Linked DNA regions of Homo sapiens. The protein of the gene in region 1 purifies or fractionates together with the protein of each later gene. This does not show direct contact. Each region holds a gene or a part of one and is shown in the gene's direction. Other genes may lie near its edges. The genes, in order: SLC9A2, CDC42BPA, SYNM, ZNF143, FBXW8, PRICKLE2 and TMF1.

The links.
Region 2: the proteins of SLC9A2 (region 1) and CDC42BPA purify together in Homo sapiens (affinity purification with mass spectrometry; one large-scale study listed by BioGRID and IntAct). This does not show direct contact.
Region 3: the proteins of SLC9A2 (region 1) and SYNM purify together in Homo sapiens (affinity purification with mass spectrometry; one large-scale study listed by BioGRID and IntAct). This does not show direct contact.
Region 4: the proteins of SLC9A2 (region 1) and ZNF143 purify together in Homo sapiens (affinity purification with mass spectrometry; one large-scale study listed by BioGRID and IntAct). This does not show direct contact.
Region 5: the proteins of SLC9A2 (region 1) and FBXW8 purify together in Homo sapiens (affinity purification with mass spectrometry; one large-scale study listed by BioGRID and IntAct). This does not show direct contact.
Region 6: the proteins of SLC9A2 (region 1) and PRICKLE2 purify together in Homo sapiens (affinity purification with mass spectrometry; one large-scale study listed by BioGRID and IntAct). This does not show direct contact.
Region 7: the proteins of SLC9A2 (region 1) and TMF1 purify together in Homo sapiens (affinity purification with mass spectrometry; one large-scale study listed by BioGRID and IntAct). This does not show direct contact.

What each region holds. Positions count from the first base shown.
Region 1 is NC_000002.12:102,626,053-102,629,552, forward strand, and holds part of SLC9A2 (sodium/hydrogen exchanger 2 precursor), read left to right. Parts: intron 1-3,500.
Region 2 is NC_000001.11:227,028,493-227,031,992, reverse strand, and holds part of CDC42BPA (serine/threonine-protein kinase MRCK alpha), read left to right. Parts: intron 1-478; coding exon 479-695; intron 696-1,522; coding exon 1,523-1,585; intron 1,586-2,742; coding exon 2,743-3,336; intron 3,337-3,500. UniProt on the Homo sapiens protein: Serine/threonine-protein kinase which is an important downstream effector of CDC42 and plays a role in the regulation of cytoskeleton reorganization and cell migration. Regulates actin cytoskeletal reorganization via phosphorylation of PPP1R12C and MYL9/MLC2.
Region 3 is NC_000015.10:99,125,580-99,129,079, forward strand, and holds part of SYNM (synemin), read left to right. Parts: intron 1-1,142; coding exon 1,143-1,213; intron 1,214-3,500. UniProt on the Homo sapiens protein: Type-VI intermediate filament (IF) which plays an important cytoskeletal role within the muscle cell cytoskeleton.
Region 4 is NC_000011.10:9,523,512-9,527,011, forward strand, and holds part of ZNF143 (zinc finger protein 143), read left to right. Parts: intron 1-1,728; coding exon 1,729-1,875; intron 1,876-3,500. UniProt on the Homo sapiens protein: Transcriptional activator. Activates the gene for selenocysteine tRNA (tRNAsec). Binds to the SPH motif of small nuclear RNA (snRNA) gene promoters. Participates in efficient U6 RNA polymerase III transcription via its interaction with CHD8.
Region 5 is NC_000012.12:117,025,950-117,028,798, forward strand, and holds part of FBXW8 (F-box/WD repeat-containing protein 8), read left to right. Parts: intron 1-1,444; coding exon 1,445-1,555; intron 1,556-2,078; coding exon 2,079-2,223; 3' UTR 2,224-2,849. UniProt on the Homo sapiens protein: Substrate-recognition component of the Cul7-RING(FBXW8) ubiquitin ligase complex, which mediates the ubiquitination and subsequent proteasomal degradation of target proteins.
Region 6 is NC_000003.12:64,222,667-64,226,621, reverse strand, and holds the start of PRICKLE2 (prickle-like protein 2), read left to right. Parts: upstream 1-1,155; 5' UTR 1,156-1,712; intron 1,713-3,955.
Region 7 is NC_000003.12:69,038,834-69,042,333, reverse strand, and holds part of TMF1 (TATA element modulatory factor), read left to right. Parts: intron 1-2,640; coding exon 2,641-2,783; intron 2,784-3,324; coding exon 3,325-3,491; intron 3,492-3,500. UniProt on the Homo sapiens protein: Potential coactivator of the androgen receptor. Mediates STAT3 degradation. May play critical roles in two RAB6-dependent retrograde transport processes: one from endosomes to the Golgi and the other from the Golgi to the ER.

The sequences.
Region 1 (3,500 bases):
GCATTTCTCTGATGGCTACTTTAAAGTTCATATGGAACCAAAAAAGAACCCACATTGCCAAGTCAATCCTAAACCAAAGGAACAAAGCTGGAGGCATCACGCTACCTGACTTCAAACTATACTGCAAGGCTACAGTAACCAAAACAGCATGGTACTGGTACCAAAACAGACATATAGACCAATGGAGCAGAACACAGCCCTCAGAAATAATACCACATATCTACAACTATCTGATCTTTGACAAACCTGACAAAAACAAGAAATGGGGAAAGGATTCCCTATTTAACAAATGGTGCTGGGAAAACTGGCTAGCCATATTTAGAAAGCCAAAGCTGGATCCCTTCCTTACACCTTATACAAAAATTAATTCAAGATGGATTAAAGACTTAAATGTTAGACCTAAAACCATAAAAACCCTAGAAGAAAACCTAGGCAATACCATTCAGGACATAGGCATGGGCAAGGACTTCATGTCTAAAACACCGAAAGCAATGGCAACAAAAGCCAAAATTGACAAATGGGATCTAATTAAACTAAAGAGCTTCTGCACAGCAAAATGAACTACCATCAGAGTGAACAGGCAACCTACAGAGTGGGAGAAAATTTTTGCAATCTGCTCATCTGAAAAAGGGCTAATATCCAGAATCTACAAAGAACTCAAACAAATTTACAAGAAAAAAACATACAACCCCATCAACAAGTGGGCGAAGGATATGAACAGACACTTCTCAAAAGAAGACATTTATGCAGACAACAGACACATGAAAAAATGCTCATCATCACTGGCCATCAGAGAAATAATAGATATTTTTATCACCAAATGAAAATGTTACATTATATCCACTTTAACAATGATAACAATACTCAGCTTTATTTCTTACAGAATTATTTCACCTAGATTGAATCCCTAAGAAGTATACAATGAACTGTTTGCATAAAACCATTTGTTCTGGCTGGGTATTGTAGCTCACAACTGTGATGTCAGCACTTTGTGGGGCTGAGGTGAGAGGATCACTTGAGGCCAGAAGTTTGAGACCAGCCTGGGCAACATAGTGAGGCCCAATCTCTTCAAAATGTTAACAACAACAACAACAACAACAATAACAACAACAAAAAGCCAGGTTTGGTGGCCTGTGCCTTTAGTCCCAGTGACTCAGGAGCTAGTCAGGAGGATCACTTGAGCTCAGGAGTTCAAAGTTACAGTGATCTGCGATGATGCCACTGCACTCCAGTGGGAGTGGGCAAAGACAGATGGAGACCTGCTCTCTTAGAAACAAAAAAAACAAACTGTTCCTTGGGTGATATAAAAACTCACCTGTAAAAGCAAGTGAATTGATGGTTTTGGTATATGGATAGATTTTAACCAGTGAGTCCGTGGCTTTAATGTTTATAGTTTTATTTGGTTTATCTGTGTCTTCTGGGGTCAATTTTGGTAATTTGTATTTTTTATAAAATTATTATTTTGAGTTTTTAAAAATTTATTGGAAGTTATTTTATGATTTAAAAGATCTCCACTTTATATGCATTTATGTTCTCCTTTCTGTTTCTAATATTGTTATGTTTTTCTTTTTTTCACCTTGATCAGGTATGCAGGAGTTTGTCTATTTGATACTTTATCAAAGAATTAGCTTTTGGTTAGCTTCTAAGTTATCTGCTTCTGCTCTTACATTTATGATTTACTTACTTCAGCTTTCTTTGGGTTTATTTATTTAATTAATCCTTGAATTAAAAACTTAACCCATTAATTGTTTGGTTTACTTATGTTCTGTTAATATTGTTAATTCCCGCCTTACAAGAGTAAGAAACACCAATATTTAAAAACATAATTAATATTATTTTCAATAGTTTCTCTGCTGGTATTTTTATGAATCCCTGAGCTCCAAAATTGACATGCACTTATGCTAAAGTGACATCAGTCTTATTAAAATGAACAAAATTACTTCAGTAGCTTACTTACTTATTGAAACTCCTAATAAGACAATTCCCCTTATCAATTTATCCCAAATATGGGTATTTGCTTGTTTTCATTAAATTCAAATCTATGATATACTGTACACTTAAGACTCTGTCACAAACTAAACGTATTCATAATACTCAAAGTTTATGTAAATTCATCTTTAATACAAATAATAATAACAATAAAGAGAATGGTAAAGACAAAAGATATAAGGAAAATTATGCAAATGACATATCAGTTTCTGAATAAATTGCATGATGTCTTTACTGCTGTTAAGTAGGAAACCATGGGTGTTCTGAAAGGATTTCTTAACACAACATACCAATGATAAAACTGGAATGATGACTGCTTTTGATGGATCTCATCTCAGGATGCTCAGAGTCCACAAAATCAGTTTGATCTTCATGGAGCCAAAGGAATGCTTCATGAACTAAAATAGGATTATTCAATGAAACTCTTCTCAAAGATGAATTCTCATGATCCAAATGGGTAAATTTTGGAAGAACGGCAATATATGTATTTAAGGCTAGAAATATACCCCTTTTTTCCTACTTTAATTGTATTGCATAGGTTTGATATGCGGGGTTTCCACTGTCACTCAGCTCTCGGTATTTTTAAACCCCCTTGTGATATTTTATTCTGACTCAATAATTAGTTAGAATTTTACTTCTCAGTTAATAAACTTATGGAGATTTGGGGTTTTTGTTGTCATTGTCAGTTTTAGAGATAGGTTCTCACTATGTTGCCTTGGCCGCTCTCAAACTCCTTAGCTCAAATGATTCTCCCGCCTAAGCCTCCCAAGTAGCTGTAACTATAGGCATGCACCACCATGCCCAGTTGTTTTTTATTTTATTGACATTTTAATGCATTTTGGCTAGATAGGTATAATGCTGATTTTTAGTGTTGATTGTGATATCCTTTATGGCTTATTTTATGGACATTTTAAAACTATATTTTCCATTTATACTTGAAAAAACAATGTGTATTCTCTATTTATTGTGTACAGGATTTTATATACTTAGATGTATACATATGCAGACACATAGAGACTAGGTCAAATTTCTAATTACGGTGTTAAAATCTTCAATAGCATTACCAGTTTTTTGGTTACTTTATCAGTTCCTGGGGTACATTAAAATCACTTCTAAAATTGTGATGTCAATTACCATTTGTAATTGTTTCAATTTTTGCTTTGTTTTGATGCTATGTTATTACATACTCATTCAATATTGTTACATCTCCAGAGTGAGTTCTTCCTTTAATTATTAAGTTTTTAACTTCCTTATTTCCAGTACTTGTGGCTCAAAGTGTATTTTTTCATATAAAACTATTACCATTTAAAAGAAAACTTGATTTTGCGCATGTACTTTTTTTCCATATCTGTTTTCTATATCTACATTTTCCAGATGTATATTTTTATACCTATACTATCAAATGAGTTATGTTATTTTCATTTGGCTAGGCCTCATTAAACCACATAGATCTGGATTTTGCATCTTTAATTTCACATTTTAAAACACCGTAGCTTAAAAAGAGAAATGTA
Region 2 (3,500 bases), on another chromosome or scaffold:
GTAGTTGTATGTCCTTGGAGAAATGATTTAATTTCTTTGCATCACCATTTTTTTCATATATAAAATAAGGATATAATGACAGTACATCCTAAATCATGACGATGTTAACAGAGTTAAATGAGTTAATACTTGTAAAGTGCTTAGATCTACCTGGTGCTCAGTATTTACTCAATAAATGTCAGTTGTTGTTGTTGTTGTTATATATTTAATGCCTCTTTAGTGATAGTGTTCTGGCACTTTTACAGAAGGAAAATGAAAATGATACTAACATTTCAAATGGTGTCTGCCACCTTTGCTTTGTCATGTATTCTAGTGCTAAAGGTAGTTATTCTGATTAGGAATAGCTGAACTCCAGTAATGGTATCATTTAATGAATGCTTATTTTATTGGTGAGTGCTAAGCAAACTAACATAATCATGAAACTAGCATAAAGGGTGTCTGTTTTCTAATATCATGAATATTGATTAAATTGTTCTAGGTCACAGCTTCCCAGCTCTCAGCATCTAATAACAAATGTTCAATCCTGATGCTAGCAGACACTGAGAATGAGAAGAATAAGTGGGTGGGAGTGCTGAGTGAATTGCACAAGATTTTGAAGAAAAACAAATTCAGAGACCGCTCAGTCTATGTTCCCAAAGAGGCTTATGACAGCACTCTACCCCTCATTAAAACAACCCAGGCAGCCGCAATCATAGGTATGAATTTATAACATTTATCATATTATTATCATTGTTTACTAATCTACCTTGAGAACAGGGATTGGCTTTCATCTAGGAATCCCCAGTGTCCAACATACTGTGCATCATATCATAAATGCTCAGTACATGTTTACTGAATGAATGAGACCTATATCAGATCTTTGTTTTTCAGTAAACAGGAGTATAAATACACTTTCAAAGTGCCTTTTTTTTCCTGAAAAAACAACAGTGCTAAGCATTAGCCTACTAATCTATTTTCTGCTTGTGTGATTTAGAACAAGTTAGTTTCTTAGAGTTTAATATATAAAATACAGATGGTAATTACCTTGCTGAGGTTATTGGGAAGTTTAAATAAGATGGAATACATAACACAGAGTGCCCTGCATAAGAAAGAAATCCCCTTAACAAATGGCAGTTTCTGTGTCTGGAGGTTTAAATTTTTGCTGTATTCCTGTGTATGCATCTAACTCTTTTGTTACTTTCCATAAATACTGAAAAGTTCAATGAGTATGGTTCAAATGCCATTCACAATTTTTACCTCCCAAAACAATAAGTGTAGAACAACTTAGGTTTTTCATTTTGTTTCATCATTTATTAAACATTTACTTCTTTTTGTAAGTATTGATATGGATTATTCTTTAATAATTGTTCTATTTTAGAAGACATGAGAGATTTACCAGTATAATCTGAAAGGAAATAGTGTAAACTGTTATTGTAATTCATTTTATTTCCATTTTTTGCACCAAATGTTCTTATCATCTGGTTTATTAGCATTACATGGTTTTTTTCCTAATAAAAATCTTTCACATTCATGTCTTACATAGATCATGAAAGAATTGCTTTGGGAAACGAAGAAGGGTTATTTGTTGTACATGTCACCAAAGATGGTAAGAGAAAACTTTTTTTTTTTGGAGTAATTTTAAATCGTGTTAAAAAAATTTAAACTGTAGATTCTAAATTCTACAAAGAGCAGGATTTGCTCTTATTTATCCTGCGACTAAAATTTTCCAGACCTAATTTGACGTTTATAAATTAAAAGATTATTTTTAAATTTCTATAATCCCCCTGAGGTTTAAAACTTCAAATATGTATTGTCTTTCTTGTATCATTTTATTTAACAGTTCTGTACGAACTCAGATTGCATTTCTTTTTTTTTTTTTGGAGACAGAGTTTCACTCTTGCTGCCCAGGCTGGAGTGCAGTGGCACGAACTCGGCTCATTGCAGCCTCCGCCTCCTGGGTTCAAGAGATTCTCCTGCCTCAGCCTCCCAGTAGCTGGGATTACAGGCATGCACCACCACGCCCGGCTAATTTTGTATTTTTAGTAGAGATGAGGTTTCTCCATGTTGGCCAGGTTGGTCTCGAACTCCCAACCTCAGGTGATCCACCCGCCTTGGCCTCCCAAAGTGCTGAGATTATAAGCATGAGCCACTGCGCCCAGCCCAGATTGCATTTCTAAAGATGGAACATGAAAAAAAATATATACAACTTGATTTTCACATTGTTCTATTAGTACCAGAAGAGGCAACAGCTATTAAAATGTGTTTGTTTGGAGGTTTTTCTTCTAGGGAAAAACTAAATGCTGGGTGAAATAAAGAGAAACCAATATAACTTGGTATTCATAAATACAGTATTCTAAGTTTTATCTTTATGTCAACTTAGATCATGGGAAAACAATGCATTGTTAGCCATATAAAAACTTCTGAAAAATAAGTTCTCTGTTTTTAAAAATGGGAATCCTATGGTGACGTTCCCTAGAATTTAGTGCCAGTAGAAAAGTTTCCTTGAAGATTTGGCATACTTTTACACAAGAATCCTTTGGGGTTTGCCTTGGCTGCCAGAAATCTCAGGACTCAAATTTAATACGTACTATAGGTGAGTTAAATTATCTTATGATGGGTTGGATAATCTTTTTTTCCTGTGACTTCTGATGTCTTATTCTTCCGTATGTGCATCTGTAAGTTGACTTACATCCTTTTGAGTATAATTGGGATATGATTAATCAATAAAACTATATTTTGATTTATTATTCTTTCTGTGTTTAGAAATTATTAGAGTTGGTGACAATAAGAAGATTCATCAGATTGAACTCATTCCAAATGATCAGCTTGTTGCTGTGATCTCAGGACGAAATCGTCATGTACGACTTTTTCCTATGTCAGCATTGGATGGGCGAGAGACCGATTTTTACAAGCTGTCAGAAACTAAAGGGTGTCAAACCGTAACTTCTGGAAAGGTGCGCCATGGAGCTCTCACATGCCTGTGTGTGGCTATGAAAAGGCAGGTCCTCTGTTATGAACTATTTCAGAGCAAGACCCGTCACAGAAAATTTAAAGAAATTCAAGTCCCATATAATGTCCAGTGGATGGCAATCTTCAGTGAACAACTCTGTGTGGGATTCCAGTCAGGATTTCTAAGATACCCCTTGAATGGAGAAGGAAATCCATACAGTATGCTCCATTCAAATGACCATACACTATCATTTATTGCACATCAACCAATGGATGCTATCTGCGCAGTTGAGATCTCCAGTAAAGAATATCTGCTGTGTTTTAACAGCATTGGGATATACACTGACTGCCAGGGCCGAAGATCTAGACAACAGGAATTGATGTGGCCAGCAAATCCTTCCTCTTGTTGTAAGATTCTCTTTCTTACGGCTGTCTTATCTTTATATCTCTTCTTCCTTTTCCCTTCTACTTCGTCTCCCAAATGTTGTCATTGTTGATAACAGTTTTTTAAAAAAGTCATTCTTAATGCTTTTCCTCAGTATTGATTATGTTGTTGATGTAAAAACCATATG
Region 3 (3,500 bases), on another chromosome or scaffold:
ATGGGGCTCACCATGTTTCAACAGATGGAAATACAACTCAGTGCAGTTTGTCCAAGCTGCCAAGTCCCTGCTCGGGTGTGGGCACCCTGCTCCGTTTTTGTGCCCAGCTCTCAGCCATAAGATTGGCATTTCTCAGTGGGCTCTTGTTCTGGATGCCTTTTGCCGTGTGCAGTGTATTTCTTGGAACCGGAGTTAGTGACTTCACATGTTGCTCTAGCAACTGAGAAACTGTTGCACCCAGAGCTGCCAGCAGCCCAAGGGGTCTTCGCGAGTGACTGGCTGACAGGCATCCCGGTGCTAAGCCCCTCGCCAGCAGGCTGGGTCTGCTGGGACCACTCTCCTCAGCTCTGGGATCTGAAGCAGTAGACGTGAACAACCTAATGAAACTTCTATAATTTTAGAACTTTGGCGCAGACATAGTCAAAGAAATCACCTTGTTGGGTACTTCTCACCATTTTATTAAAGGAGATAACAGGATGCCAATTTGGATGAAGTGAGGCCCCTGGGGGTGGCATGGGGAGGGGCTACTGACGGGGGGCGCTTTAGCACTACCTTTTCCGTCTGCCTGCCTTCTACTTCTTTTTGTCGTCTCCAAGGTGACCCCCTGGAATGCAGTTTGAAACCACAGATGCAGTCTGGCTGCCTTATAAGTGTCAGTCCCTGCCGTCTCCTGGTCAGCCCTCTGCAAGCTGCCCCCACCAGCTGTGACTCCAGGAAGAACCCAGTGGGGGGTGTAGCTGCTCTGGGGCCCTCTAGCCTGGGGCCCACATCTCTCCAGTGCCCCCTTGCTCCTGCTCCTCTTCACCCTGGACTGAGAAAGCTTTCTAGAAGGGCTTGGCTCGCCAGTACTGCCGAAGCCCTGGCCTGGTCATTTTGTTCACTGGGCTAGTAGGGGTTGAGCGCCATGCTGGCTGCCAGGGATGTGGCGGTGAGCAGAGCAGGTGGCCTGGCCCAGGTCTGCTGAGGCTGGTGGGTGGGCTTGCCAGCCCTATGGTGCAGCCCTGCCCAAGTCTCCTCTTCAGGTAGAAGTCCTAAAACAGGTGACACTATGGTCATTGGCCGCATACCACGATACGTTTTATTAGAGGCACTTCTTACTCTTTCGTTTCCTAATGAATTATGTTTGTAAATTATTTTTACAGGGCCTTATTGGAAGGAGAAAGTAATCCAGAGATAGTGATCTGGGCTGAGCACGTTGAAAACATGCCGTCAGGTAAGTAAAAGCTAATGACTTGACTTAGCTTTAGGCATCTGAACTGTTTATTCTGTGGCTAGATAGTAAAGCACCATCATCGGGAAGAACGGGTTAGATATGGTGTTTAGATAACAGGAGTTCATCTCTCATTTAAGTACCAAATAGATTTTAGTTTAGTGTGACATAATTTCAATTATGTGAATGAGAATGTTTGGGAAGGTGCTTGATAAACTTGGTCCCTCTCTCGACAGGATGCAGGAGCGGAAGGGGCTAATGGCACTGGGCAGTGTGAGGGCGAGCAGGAGTGCACCTGAACTTGTGTTTCACACCCCTGGAAGGGACACTCCTTCCATTTCCAGACCAAGGGGTTATGGTTGTTACACCTGTAGAGGGAGGTATGGCCTTGGATGGCAGGCAGGCAGCACTCTGGAACCTGCTACCCTAACAGGAAGAGAGATGGGAATAGTTACATTGTTTACACCACCCTAGGTTGTTGTGAGCAGCTCAGGAAAATGTGTCCTGGTGCCTTGAAGACTACCTTATTGAGGCCAAGAGCCTCAGGACAGGGCCCATCCTTCCTATGGCTGCAGAACTGACATAAGATCATTAATGTTCATTAGAAAGATCCTAAGAAACTGAGGGATAACTTGTTTTTTAACCTTTTAAAGCCCTATAGAATCTTGAAGAGCTCTGGCTAAGCAAGTGTCGATTAAATTACGTATAGAATGTTGAGTTCACACCTTAGGCAGCAGCATGGTTTTAGTCTTCATTGTTTCTTTTAGGCAACTCATGGATTTGACATGTCACTGGGTTGAGAAGAATATTTGGGTTCTAGTCATCTATAACTGGAAGGGATCTGGTCTTAGACAACATGCAGCAAATTTTCTTTCTAATTTTGAGAGTAAGTTTGAAAAAAGCAAAGGTGTTCATGGAAGGGTAGGCATTGGTCAACCTGCCTGGCATCAGTTAACGTGTGACATCTATAAAACAAGAATTAACTCCCCAGATTTCAAGGTTTACTTAGTTACCTACATTTTTAACCTGTGGATACCTAAGTTTGGACATCCATCATGTAACCTAGAGAGAGGGGAGAAGGAAGAAAAGGGCCCAGGAGCTCCGAGGAAGACCAACAGTCTAAGCCAGGGCCTTGCTCAAATTTTCCCAGTTGTGATTTTGGGGCCGAGGGAGAGCACACAGAGGGGCTAACAGCTGTTGCTGTTAACTTGCTTCATTCATTCATTCATTCATTCATTCATTCATTATTTTTCAAGCTTCTTGAAGGAAATAGAGACTTAATATTTGTAAACTAAATTTATTCTGGCAATTACATATTATGCCAAAAGCTTTAGAATAAAAATTACTAGTTGGGAATTTTTATTAGACGTTGAGCTTCTAGATAGTTCTGTTCTGTTGAGTAAATATACAGATAAGTTCCTAAGTAGTGAACTTATCAATACTTGTTAGTGTGCTTGTGTTTCTTTTATAATATTGCATAAAATAATGTTGGCCGCTTGCCCGCTAGCCGGTGGACCTAAACCCAGTCTGTAATCTTCCATGTTTCTTGTTGAATCTTAACTGTAAATGAGATGGTCCCTGCACTATTGCCTGGGGGTTCATCTTCTGGGACTTCTCAGTTGGATCAGTAGGATCAGTTGACCTGAAAAGAGGAGTCTTGTAGAAAATGTCCTGGCCTGGTCTCTTTCCTGTATCTTGGGATCTGTGCAAAGGAGGCCTCTGGCCTTGGCTCCATAAGGGAGAGAGAAAGCCCTGTCCCCGCTGAGCCAGCTGGGGTGTGGGTAGACACCAGGGGCACTCTCGGGGTGGACGGTGCTCCTGGCTGCGTTCTAACCACCAGCTGCCATTCCTAAAGAGCGGTTTCCCCTGCTGGGGTGTGGACACCCCAAAGGGTAGCACTGTCTGCAAACAGCCTGGAGCAAAGCTGGAAGCCCTGAGGACTGCCTCCCAACTTCAGGATCATGACACTAAGACAGACCGGGGTGTTTCTGCACTGGCTCCTTTTCAGATAAGTGTTAAATGTAAAATAAAAGATCAGAAAGCTTAAAGAAGTTAAATTCTTTAATACTTGTTGGCCCAATATGGAAATCAGTGAAACAGAAGAGTATATTAAATAGTGGAGGATAATGCTATTTGGTGTTTAATAATGACACACTTTGTAATTACAGAGCTCTTCTCTGCTACAGTAAATTAAACTTACCTCAAAAAGCAGAAATTAATGATTTCAAAATATAAGATTGTGAAATTTCAGCCACAAAAACGAGCACCTCTGACCTCTCTGGGATATGCA
Region 4 (3,500 bases), on another chromosome or scaffold:
TCACGAGGTCAGGAGATCGAGACCATCCTGGCTAACACGGTGAAACCCCGTGTCTACTAAAAAATACAAAAAATTAGCTGGGCGTGATGGCGGGCGCCTGTAGTCCCAGCTACTCGGGAGGCTGAGGCAGGAGAATGGCGTGAACCCGGGAGGCGGAGCTTGCAGTGAGCCAAGACGGCGCCACTGCACTCCAGCCTGGGCGACAAAGTGAGACTCCGTCTCAAAAAATATATAATAATAATAATTATTATTCTGGCTGGGCGCGGGGGCTCACGTCTGTAATCCCAGCGCTTTGGGAGGCCGAGGCGGGTGGATCGCCTGAGGTCAGGAGTTCGAGACCAGCCTGACCAACTTGGAGAAACCCTGTTTCTACTAAAAATACAAAAATTAGCCGAGTGAGGTGCCGCATGCCTGTAATCCCAGCTACTCGGGAGGCTGAGGCAGAAGAATCGCTTGAACCTGGGAGGCAGAGTTTGCAGTGAGCTGAGATCAAGCCATTGCATTCCAGCTTGGGCGACAGAGCGAGACTACCTCAAAAAAAAAAAAAAAAAAAAGGATTTGAGGACAGTTTATACAAAGATTTGGGGGCTTCCCACTCAAATTCTTTGCTTTCTGGGCTATTCTTCTCTGTACTGCTATTCTGGCAGCCCTGGACTCCATTATCTTTAACCTTAAGTTGCCCCAGGCTGCTCAAACTGGGTAGTGCCCTCAGTGTGAAATCTATTTAAACACAGATATAACACAGTGTGACTCCCTTCTTTTGAGAATCCCCTCTAGTTTCTTCCTGCTTGTCATTGCTCCTCAAAGCCTTCATATAGTTGCTTTTTCATATTTTTGTCAAGGGTTTATAATTGTTATCTGCAGGAAGGTTAGCCCAATATAAGCTACTTAGACATTGCTGGAATGAAATCTGTTTTTCTTATAGAATTAGGGAACATTATTGGGATTGATCCAAGCTAAATATCTATTAGCTTAAAATGTAGCATTTTTAGTGGATGAATAGCCAAGTAAAACAGCAGTTTTCATTTTTAATCTATTCTTTCTCTGAATTTGGCTGAGTAAAATTTTAGAATATCATCTAACAGAAATAGTTAATTGCCATTTTCCATGTTATCTGCATTTTTTTAAAAAGTTGTACTTGTGGTATAAGAGCCACAAAAGCCCTTTTAATCCTCCTGGCTAGATGCTGCAAGAGGAGTATGGGAAGATTCCATGGAGTCTAAAATGGGAAATGAGTATGAGATGAGATGCTGTTTGTCAGTAGTACCACTGGTCCTTTCAGTTTTCCTAGTTAAATGGAAATCTAATTTTAAATACGACAAGTAAAGAGGAAAAAAATCATTTATTTTCTCCTATGAGCCAATCTCAGGAAAAAAAAATGGACATTTGAGGTGCAAATTAGTCCACATACATAACTTCCCAAGCAGTCACTTAGGGGTAATAGAATCTAGGTACAGCCACATCTCCCTGGCTAATGGGGCCTGGCATAGCAGATCCATTTCTCCAGTGTTCTCTACCCTATTTTGCCGTTGGCTCACTTCATAACCTTAGATAATGAGCCTCAACTTCCTCAAATAAACCTCCTTTCAATATAGGCTTTGACAAGTCTATGGTCAGAGGAGTTTTTCCTTTTCAATTTGAAGAAATCCATTGTATTAAGTGGACTTTAACCTATTTAAATCGCAGGTTTAATTCTTTATGTGTATGGTTTGTTTTGTTTTGCTTAAGGTTGCAATTGTAGCTCAAGACTTGGCAGCATTCCATACTGCCTCATCAGAAATGGGGCACCAGCAGCATAGCCATCACTTAGTAACCACAGAAACCAGACCTCTGACCTTAGTAGCAACATCCAATGGCACCCAGATTGCAGTTCAGGTGAGTACCAAGGCATACTGTCCTCAGTCGACAGCAGTGCTGCTCATAGCTTTCAACTTTGTACACTGTGCTTCGTGTATAACCTTTACAGGAGGCAAGGTGTAGAATAATCTCTATCACCTAGCCTACTTTAAGGAAATCGGTGTATTTGAGGTGGACTCAAAAAGACCAGCACTTTGTTCTCTACCCATCTTTGCATATTCTAGGGGAATTTATAGCAAGAAAAAAAACCTTCAGGTATATATCCCTGTGTGCACCCACCCAGGCATCTTTACTCTCAAAATAAAAGTCTAATTAGGCAGGGGTCTGTAAAGCACTTAAGAGCTACTCCTTAGAGAAAAACCTAGTGGAAACACAAATCCTAAATAAGTCCTCTGAGAATCCTTGCACAGCCCCCATTTTAAAGTGGGGAATGTCAGAAGACTTAGAAGGAATCATTCTCTGGGAAGCAGAGAATTTAGAATCTTAGGTGCAGCCGGGCATGGTGGCTCATCCCTATAATCCTAGCACTTTGGGAGGCTGAGACAGGTAGGTAGCTTGAGCTTAGGAATTAGAGACCAGCCTGGGCAACATGGTGAAAACCATCACTACAAAAAACACAAAAATTAGCTGGGTGTGGTGACGGCTGCCTGTAGTGCCCAGCTACTTGGGGGGTGCTGAGGCAGGAGGATTACTTGTACCCAGGAGATTTGAGGCTGCAGTGAGCCAAGATTGTGCCACTGCACTCCCGCCTGGGTAACAAATGAGACCCCATCTCAAAAAATAAGAGACCAGCCCAGGCAACATGACGAAACCCCATCTCTACAAAAATACAAAAATTAGCCAGGTGTGGTGGTGTGCACCTGTAGTCCCAGCTACTCAGGTGGCTGAGGTGGAAGGATCACTTGAGCAAGGGAGGTTGAGGCTGCAGTGAGCCAAGATCGCACCACTGTACTCCAGCCTGGGCAACAGAGCGAGACCCTGTCTCAAAAAAAAAATTAGAATGTAAAGTAAAATAGAATCCTAGGGGCTAGGTGCAGATTACCTGTCCTTAGGGAGATTTTTTTTCCGCCCACGTGTTTACTTGATAAAGAGTTAGAACACACTCCAGGAAATGTCAGCTGTTGGCTTTATGTAGTTTATGGGTATAGAAGCTAAAGGCTCAAGAAGCTCTCTTTTGTTGGCTGAGGTAAGCATCTTTTGTCTCTTGCATGTATGAATTTTTTTTTTTTTTAGTTTTTATTTATGTAAAAATAAATAGAGATGGGGTCTCACTATGTTGCTCAGGCTGGTCTTGAACTCCTGGGCTCAAGTGATCCTCCTGCCTCAGCCTCCCAAAGTGCTACGATTATAGTCATGAGCCACCATGGCCAGACTGTATGAAGATTTTATCAAAATCCCAAGTAAATTGCAGGCCAGGCACGGCAGGCTGGGAGTACAGGTGCACGCTGCCATGCGCAGCTAATTTTTGTTTTTTGAGACGGAGTCTCGCTCTGTCACCCAGGCTGGAGTGCAGTGGCACCATCTTGGCTCACTGCAAGCTCCGCCTCCTGGGTTCATGCCATTCTCCTCCCTCAGCCTCCCCAGTAGCTGGGACTACAGGCACCCATCACCACGCCCAGCAATTTTTTTTTTGTATTTTTTAG
Region 5 (2,849 bases), on another chromosome or scaffold:
GCCTCTGTCCCTGTGCGGTCCAGGCTTGTCCCCCACGTGGTCACTGTTTTCACCAGCACAAGGCTGACAGACACATGGTCTCCTGCCCAGAACTCACTGACTTGCTCAAGGCCTCACCTGCAGTGCCTGCTGCCAGGCCCCAGTCTGGCTGTTGTTTGGTCACTGTCATGTACCTCCCGCTGTCCGCTTCAGTCTCTTCAGCCCAGGTCCTCGCCTGCCTGACAGGGTGCCGTCAGTCCTCCAGGCTGCAGGCCTCCACCAAGCCTGCCCTCCCTCCCCGGGTCTTTCTCATCCTCCAGGTCCCATGCCAGGTCCACCAACACTTTCCTTCAGTCCTCCAGGCTGCAGGCCTCCACCAAGCCTGCCCTCCCTCCCCGGGTCTTTCTCATCCTCCAGGTCCCATGCCAGGTCCACCAACACTTTCCTTCAGTCCTCCAGGCTGCAGGCCTCCACCAAGCCTGCCCTCCCTTCCCGGGTCTTTCTCATCCTCCAGGTCCCATGCCAGGTCCACCAACACTTTCCTTCTGTGGGTGTCCCAACCCCAGGGAGGCAGGGACTGCTTCCCAGCTTCCCTCACTTCCAAGAATCCTTTGCTTTAGTCAAGGAGAGCAGCCCTGGCCCAGCCCACACAGGCCTCGTCCCCTCCTGTGCACCCCTCCCAGCCCACAGCACCTCCTGCTCCTCCCAGCACTTAACTCTGGGTCACACATTCTTTGTAGCTTGTAACATCGCTCGTGCTACAGAAACAATGGTCATGTTTTCTGGGACTGCATCTTACCTTCTTCACTAGCTAGGGCTCTCCCTGGGCCAGGCATCCACCTGGATGAGACATCTTTTTAATCCAGTGTCTCCTAGCTCAGTGCCGTGACCACAGCCGGTACTGCATGAAAGTTTCAGAATGAACGCAAACCTCTGTTCAAGAGACTTGGAACCATTTTGTTCCAAGATTTTCCGAACGTGCTTTCACCACCCAGGGTACGTGTGTCATTGCAGCCCTATGAGCAGGATGTGGGGGGCACCTTCATGGATCAACAGTGAACGTGCCCCCAGTGCTCCATAGATGATGGAGAGCCTGGCTGGGAAAGCTCAAGGGACTTGCCCAGGGAGGCAGCGATGGGCCAGTCTCTGTTGCATGTGGCTGATTCGTCTGCAGTAGGGTGTGCCCTTTATGTCTGGAATGTACCAGGTTGTGGGGGCAGATGCCAGCATGCGTACGGGGCATGCAGACCTGTTTACAAAGTCATGCCCAAAGCGTGGCCTGCTCACCTGAGCTTCGGGAACTGAGGTGAGACACTGCTTCCATGGGGGCCCTGTTCCCTCTGTGAAAGAGAAGCTTAGCTTTATGGGTTCTAGAATCCCCTGCAGCTCTGAACTCCCAGGCCTGCGGCAGCAAGTGCAGGCCCAGTGGACGCCCCCTTACGAGCTCTCTCCCACTGCCTTCCAGGCACCCGGTGCAGCACATCTCATTCAGCAGCCACAGCCTCATCACGGCCAACGTGCCTTACCAGACGGTAATGCGAAACGCCGACCTGGACAGCTTCACTACTCACAGGAGGTTAGTGGTGGGGCCGGGCGAGTAAGAGACCATCTTAGTTTGACTGATGTATAGAACCCCACCCCCCCCGCCGTGACACATTGCACCCTATGGGCTATACCCTCAGGCAGGGCCCTGCCTTTCTGCGAATTGGAAACATAAACGTGGATGCTGACCTGTACTGAGCACCCAGCATCTGATGCAGGACAGCCCCGTGGGGCGAGTCCACGCTGTCGGCTGTACAGAGAGGGAGGGCAAGCCGTATGCTGAGGGGCCTGCTGTGGTTAGAATCCTGTCAGGGGCAAGGCCCGCCCTCTTGAGTCCTTGCCCTGTGACACTCACTGCGCCCATCGGACTTGTGCACCCCCACGTTGACCGCTAAGCCGGGGACTGTGAGTATCTGACGCTGTGTGCCCAGAGAACGCGTTTGTGAAGCTGAACCTCTATCTGGTCTCAGGCGAACGCCTCCTGCACAGACAGAAGCGGCTGGGGTGAGGGCCAGCGAGGCAGCCCTGACCTGTCACCATCTTTGTGCTCTTTCTAGACACCGGGGGCTGATCCGCGCCTATGAGTTTGCGGTGGACCAGCTGGCCTTCCAGAGCCCTCTCCCTGTCTGCCGTTCATCCTGTGACGCCATGGCCACTCACTACTACGACCTCGCACTGGCCTTTCCCTATAACCATGTTTAGGGATGTGCCTCAGTTGGGAGCAAGGAGAAAAATGGGAAGAACCAGTTTTATCCATCTTAAAACGCCAGGCACCTCTTCACAGGTGGTAAACATTTAGGGGAAGAAAGCAGCCCAGGGTGCCATGCCTGACAGCACGCATCTCCCTGACCCCTGCACTTCCCCCAGCGCCTGGGGCAAGCTGGCGTGTGCCAGGGCTCGAGTCCCACGTGCTGCCAACTCAAACATAGCCTCCTTCCCCACCCAGCTGGCCACCCTGGCCTCAGCTCCCTCAGGACGCCTCAGGGATCTCGCTGCGCGGTCCTATACGGTCCCTGCTTAGCCAGCTTCTGTGTGTCCGCCCTCCCAGCTCCAGCCCTGCAGGCCGTCTTTTCCGTCTCCAGCCCCTTACCTCTTTTCCTCCGAGGGCCTTTGGATGTGCTTGTTCCTGGCCTCCAAGGCAATAACCTCCATGTCCTTTTCCCTGTATTTACTTGGGGTGCTCTTCTGTGACACTTGCCACCACCACCTTCCAGTAGCAAGCTGGTAGAGCTGTACTTTTTCTTCACAGCTTTTACCATGGTTTATAATTATATACTTATACAGTTTAGTCATCAATGACTATTTTGCTTACTATTGTGTCTATGATA
Region 6 (3,955 bases), on another chromosome or scaffold:
ATATTGTGTTAATCTTCACCATAGTTCTATTCAATATTTTACTTTCTTTAATTGCAGTAGCCCATAAGGCCCTTGAAAGCAGAGACTGTGTTTATACCTAGCCTTTAGAGCTGTGCATGGCATAGAGTACGTGCTTAGTAAATATTTATTGAATGAGTGAATGGTACAGATGAGGTTATTGAAGATCCCACAAGTTAAGTTACTTGCCTAAGATCACACTGCTAGCAGGAAGGAAAGGCAGGATTTGAACACAGGGCTCTCCAAATGTATAGATTCCTTTCTTCCAGATTGCTTGGTTAGGCCGCCTAGTGGTGTATAAAAATGGAGCTCGGAGACCCCAAAGGTATTCAACAAAAGCTCTATCTGAGGTCTAGGAAATGTGGATTCTGACCCATCCTTGCTGAAATCCTGGTGTGACTTTAGAAAAGTCCTTTCTCCAGTTGTCTCCATTTTCTAATCTGTAAAATGAGGAGATGGAAGCAATGCTCTCTGAGGGTCTCAGGGTCTTCAGATGCCCTGGGAAGGTTTATGCTTTGTCTTCTTCTGCATGCAGTTGGAATTGGGGTAAGGGGTTAAAGGGCAGCTGACTGACTCACCACCCAAGCACGTGAGGAAAGGAGTCACTTGTGCTTTATTTCGAGGTGCACAAAAACTCAAAGGTGACATAGTCTCAGGCCAAAAAACAAGCAACACCCGAAAATGAAAGTTGAAGAGAGAAGAGAAAGAAAAAAAAAAAGGAGAGGCATTTTTGAAGGCTTGACACAGCATTTAATTAAAAAAAGAGTGCTCTGATTCCACTCCTAGGTTGGTGCAGCATATAATCTGAAACAGGCGCTCAGGTTGATAATTGTGCCCAGATCTGAACCTTGGCACCTAAGAGCACAGCTTTTAAGAAGAAAAAAAATAGGCATGTGTCTTTAAAGCCTCTCTTCTTATATGTGATTTTTTTCATGCTCATTTGGAGGTTACGTAGCTGGGCCTTTGCATCCAGCAAAGGCTTCCTTCCCCTCTCCCTGGCTTGGGGATTATTGATTTGGAAGGCAAGGCTAATTTACATGTAAATAAATCTCAGCACTGGGCAGCAGGATGGGACGTCCAGATGCCGTGACTGACTTGCTGACATCACAGCTTCATTAGCATGCGGAGGATGCAAGCACTGCAACAGCGACTTCTCAGGCACCACCAGCAGCGCCACCGAGAGTTATTATTATTTTTTGACCAAGCAGCACATTTCCTGGTTCAGTGGCTTGAGCTCTGTGAGCAGCTGACTAGTCACCCCGGGTCTGGCTCAGGATCAGCTGGTGACGCTGGGCTGGAGTCTATGACTTCTTCCTTCAGATTGTCATGAAGAAGGGGAGTTAAGAGGAAACTGGGGGTCCTCCGGAAGGCGATCTGAGCACTCAGGCTGATCTAGAGGAAGAGTAGAAGTCATACTTTTTTTCTCTTGCTTGGTGAATTCCCCAGCAGAGTCTGGATCCAGCAGTGCTGTTTTCCCTGAGGGAATGTGGAGCAGCTCGGCTTGAGTCTGTTGCCAGCTTCAGGAAGGGTTCAGACTGAAAAGGGGGTTTGAGGAGAAGATGCTTTGGCTGCCTGAGGTCCTGCTTGCGTTCTTAGAAGTCAGATCCAGGGAGAAAGTGAACTGGGACAATTGACAAGCTCCAAGGGTCTGGCAGAAGCTTCCTCCGAGACTGGGCATTTCATCCTCCCTGGAGGTGGGTAAGAAATTTGCTCTAATTCACAAATTAAACAGCAGTATATTTTCTAAGGAGGATGAGAAAGCCAGATCTAGGGCCTTTGCACTGGGGGAGGATATTGGGTCTTCGTTTTCTTGGCCAGGTAGCATTTTTGGTGGCCCTGCGACCCCTTTTGCCTTTTCTATGCTGATTAGAAAGCTCGATTACAAAGTGTTATGTCACAGCTCTAGGGAGTCCTGAAGAAACGCTTAAATCTTGATGCTTAAGAAGAAGCAGCGTTTCTCTAAAAGTGTAGCTTTCTTTAAAAAACCATAATAATATGGGGAAAGGGGCTAACAGACCAAATACCTGATAGCGTTCATGTACAGTAGTCATTTCAACACATGATGTCAGAAACCATTAGGGGATCTGAGGAACAAGGACTCAGCTGAGACTTCCAGGTAAAGAAATGGCTTTCAAATTATTTAGGTTTAATTTTAGACACTGCTTTCAGATTAGAAATGGTGACAGAGCTTCAGAATATGACTGCATAGCCTGGCTGAACACATGATTCGGTTTGCCCTCTATGCTGGGTTTCTTGAGGGAGTGATCATAGTTAGTTCTCCTCACTCTTGGCTTCTCGAAAACCAATCATAGCATTACTAATTTGCCATGGGGGTCTTGCAATGAAATACAGATTTTTAATCCCATGGTTTTTTGTTATGTGGTCTTGGACTATGCTGGGGTCCAGTGGGACTTTTATGAATCATAAATAATCCAGGCTGGGCCAAATCACACTGAGGTTAGCGATCCATACCAGATGTGATGCCATCCGCTGGTCCAAATGTGGCTCTTGTCTAACTTAGGCACATAGATTATTTCCCCAGTGAGAGAGTTCTGCTTCCCATATCAATGCATGTATGAGCACAGTCAGGGGAGGGCTCCAGTGTGCCATGAATATGTAGACATAGACTGCCGTGTACTGAATCTGCAGCTGGTAAGGCTGTGATTTGCTTTGCCTGCACATCTCTTCCCAAAGAGTGTTTTAAACCATCTCAGTGAGACTTAAACTAAATGAAGCAGCCTTGCCTCTTTGCTAGAGGCCAAATTGGCTGCTGTAATCCTGCTCCTCAGAAGGCTTACTGCCTGCTGATGGCTTTCACAGATGGGTCAGGATGAGGGTCCCCAAGGGCTCCAGAGTAAGTCACAACTTTGACATAATTACCATATTTTGGAAATTTGGATTTTAATGCCTTGAGTGCTTATAAAGGTTTTGCCTTTCCATCAAATGCTCCTTCCCCTTGGGAATTCTGTTTTTCATGTGAAAATTAAAACATACTGGCTCCATCGGGCATCTCAGTCTATAAAGATTCACGGGGCAGCCAGAAAGAGTAAAATAGCATTGTTTGAAATGGTGTGTTTATAAAGATTTACCCATGAAATGTGAGGGAATAAAATAGAAATAGAGGAAGAAAGATGCATTTATGGAAGCTTAAAGAATGAGAAGGGAACTTAGAGGTTAGATAGTATGAGATGATATTTATCCAGGGCTCAGACTCTGGAGCTGGAAAGAGCTGAAGATACTTAAAGCTACCCATTCCTGCCAGTAAAGTGGAGAGAGCAATGGAATCTATAGTTAGGGTGATAGGTGTAAGGATTTAATGAGATGACCTATGCAGAGCACAGTGGCAGCCACATAGTAAATATTCAGTAAATATTAGCTGCTATTGTTGTTGTTGTTGTTGTCATTGTTACCATTTTGTCATTATCATTATAAGTGTTGTTGCTAAAAAACAGTATTGAAAAGGCAACATGTTCACATCCATTTGCCTGCAGAAAGGTTTTGCTAGCAGAAAAGATGCCATCTCTGGTACTGTTATATCCAAATGATTCCCACTCAAAGAAACTTTCCACCCTATTGATTGAGTTGACAGAATAAAGTATATTATCCAGAACTACTGTATTTCACAGAACTGAAAGTGACCAGCTGGTATAATGAAAATCATTTAGAACTAACTGGGGCTTAGGCAGCCTTAAAGAAGGCATCCTGTTTTGGCAGCTGACAAGTCACATGTAGAAAGCTGCGGGGTCCCAGTTGGAATCAATGCATTTCTAGATTTCTCTTCTGCTTCACCTATGCATGTGAGAGACAGTCCTTTTCTTTCTTAATTCTTTTCAGTGCAGATATTGAGCATTTTCTTCTCTATCCAGGGAGGCCATTGAATATGTGCTTAACCTGCTGGTTGGCTCCTCAGAAGTTCCAAGGCTGAATTTTTGCCACC
Region 7 (3,500 bases), on another chromosome or scaffold:
GAGTGTGGTGGCTTATGACTGTAATCTCAGCACTTGGGGAGGCAGAGGTGGGTGGATCATTTAAGGTCAGGAGTTCGAGACAAGCCTGGCCAACATGGTGAAACCCCGTCTCTACTAAAAATACAAAAATTAGCCGGGTGGTGGTGGTGCGTGCCTCTAATCCCAGCTACTCAGGAGGCTGAGGCAGGAGGATTGCTTGAGCCTGGGAGGTGGAGGTTGCAGTGAGCCAAGATCACGCCACTGTACTGCAGCCTGGGCGACAGAGTGAGACTTTGTCTCAAAAAAATAAATAAATAAAATAAAATTAATAGCATTACAGAAATTAAAGATCTATTCATGAAATAAATCATTACAAATGGATACTGAATTAATTTCTTCATGTAATATCCTGGGAGAGAGGAGCCTTTGGAAAACGTGGTCAAGTGAATCTCTCTTTTTATTTCTCTTGTTAATTAAAGTTTTTGTAGTTATAAGAGTAATACTTGCTACTTGTAGAAAGTTTTGAAGTTATAGGAAAGTATATGAATAAAGAGGAAAAGTAGATTATAATCCAATATTATAAGGAACTATTAATTTTTTCTAGTTTTAATGTATTTTTTAATGCATTTTTAAACATATTTAAGATCATATATTTAATTTCCAATCTTCCTTCTCTTACATCTCTCTATGCCATTAAATGCTTTTTATCATTATTAGTGGCTGTATTAAAGTCCATTATATGGGTATACCATAATATGTTTTACTATTTCTAGTGTTGTACATTTATTTTTATAATGTTAATAATATAGTTAGTGGTAGGATGAATGTTTTTGTGCTTAAATCACTGAACTTAAGTAAATTTCCAGAGAAAGGGTAGCGTTTGAGAACAGTTGGAAGCAGTCATTTCATTTGAAAGTTAGCTTTATCCAACTTTTTCATTTATTCAACTAATATTTATTGAACGGTTAGTATGTCAGATACTATGTTTGATACAATAATAAGTATGACACTCTGTCCTTTAGGGGCTTAGTTCAGTGAGAGGGAAATATAGGAACACAGATAATGATAAAACACAATTCTAAGCACTAAAATAGAAAAATGAAGGAACTGTTGTTATAATTATTTTCTCAAGATGTCTTGAAGTCATTAACTGCCTTGCCTTACAATATCAGAGACTGAGGGGAAGGCTAACTGCATGGTTTTCTTATTTTAAAAGAGTTATTTGAAATATTAATATCGAATGTTATTATTTTGTAATTTAATAATTTTGTCAGAGAATGAACTGATGTCTTCTTTTGCTTAATGAACCTTTTTACAGAGAAAATAGAGCAATTTCACATGGGAGTATTTTATATTCACAGAGTATTTACATTTCACAAAAGGGTATTATATATTGTTTCCGCGTGCCCCAGAAAAATTTTTTTTTTTTTTTTGAAACAGAGTCTCACTGTGTTGTCCAGGCTGGAGTACAGTGGCATGATCCCGGCTCACTGCAACCTCCGCCTCCCAGGTTCAAGCAATTCTCCTGCCTCAGCCTCCCGAATAGCTGAGACTATAGCTACCTGCCACCACGCCTAGCTAGTTTTTGTATTTTTAGTAGAGATGGGGTTTCACCATGTTGGCCAGGCTGGTCTTGAACTCCTGACCTCTGGTGATCCGCCTGCTTCCCAAAAGTGCTGGGATTACAGGCGTGAGCCACTGCACCCGGCCAGTATTTTTAAAACTTAAAGCTAAAGAGCTGTAAAACTCAAAGCTGAAAGCACACTACAATGAATACCTGATTACTTCATCACCTAGATTCATCAGGTGTTAACATCTTGCCACAACTCTTCCATATCTTTCTGCACATACATACACTACCCTTTTGTCAACTCATTTGAAAGGAGGTTACAAATACCGTAACATTCTGCTCCTAAATTCTTCAGTCTACATCTCCCAAGGGCAAGTACGTTTTCCTTGACAGGTACATCATAGTCAAACCTAAGAAATCAGCATTAATTCAGAAGTGTAATCCAGCATATATTTTAATATTAATCCTAGTTGTCTCTAAAAGTGTCTGTTATAATTGATCATTTGTTCTGCCCCAGGATCCAAAGTTTGCCCATTGCATTTGATTGTTATGTCCTTTTAGTCTTCCATCAGTCTAGGACAGTTCTCTCTTCTTTATGTCTTTGAGGACTCTGTAGAGTCTAGGGCAGTTGTCCCACAGGATGTCCCACCCATGTTCGGGAATTTGTTACTTTCTTCATGATGAGATTTAAATTAGATTTAGTTCATATTTCTAGTAGGAAATATCTGGGTGATATTGAACAACTATATCACATCAGCAGACACATATTGTCAGGCTGTACTACAATTGGTGATGCCAAAACTGAATGCTTAGTTAAGGAGTTGACTGCCAGATTTTTCTCTTTAAAATTAGTAGGTGATATATGAGAGTGATTCTTTAAGACCGTGTCAATATCCAGTTCCCAACAACCTTTTACCCAATAATTTTAACATTCATTGATGATTGCTGTCCAAATTAGTTGTAACATTGTGGGTTACAAAATTGTAATTTAAAAAAATTCTGTTCTTTTATGTTACTATTAGATAAAACATTCTATTGAGATTTTTAGGGAATAGTTATCATTTGAGTTTATACTTCTTTACCATCACCAGGAGAAAAACTTTCAAAACAGCAGCTGCACAATTCTAACATCATCAAGAAATTAAGAGCTAAAGACAAGGAGAATGAAAATATGGTTGCAAAGCTGAACAAAAAAGTTAAAGAGCTAGAAGAGGAGTTGCAGCATTTGAAACAGGTGAATAGCAATCATAATTCTCTACATATATATTGTTATTACTTCCTGTATGAACAGTTGGCCATGGTTATGGAGCATTTGAAAAGATTTAATGGGGTATATCATGTAAGAAGGATTTTTCAAACAATAGATAAATGATAAGATTTTTTAGCCGAGTGGGGTGGCTCACGCCTGTAATCCCAACACTTTCGGAGGCTGCGACAGGCAGATCACTTGAGGCCAGGAGTTTGAGATCAGCCCGGTCAACAAGGCGAAACCCTGTCTCTGCTAAAAATACTGCACCAACCTAATACAAAAATTAGCCGGGCGTGGTGGTGCACATCTGTAGTCCCAGCTACTTGGGAGGCTAAGGCACGAAAATTGCCTGAAGCTGGGAGGCAGAGGTTGCAGTGAGCCAGAACATTCCACCCTGGGCAATAGAGCGAGACTTTGTCTCAAAAAAATATATATTTTTCTCCATTATTATAGATTCCTGGAATACAGTTATTTACCATGGTATTATTTCTTGAAAAATACTTTTGTCTGTTTTTATAACATATAGGTCCTTGATGGCAAAGAAGAGGTTGAGAAACAACATAGAGAAAATATTAAAAAACTAAATTCCATGGTAGAACGCCAAGAGAAAGATCTTGGCCGTCTTCAGGTAGACATGGATGAACTTGAAGAAAAGAACCGAAGTATTCAGGCTGCCCTGGATAGTGCATACAAGTAAGAAAA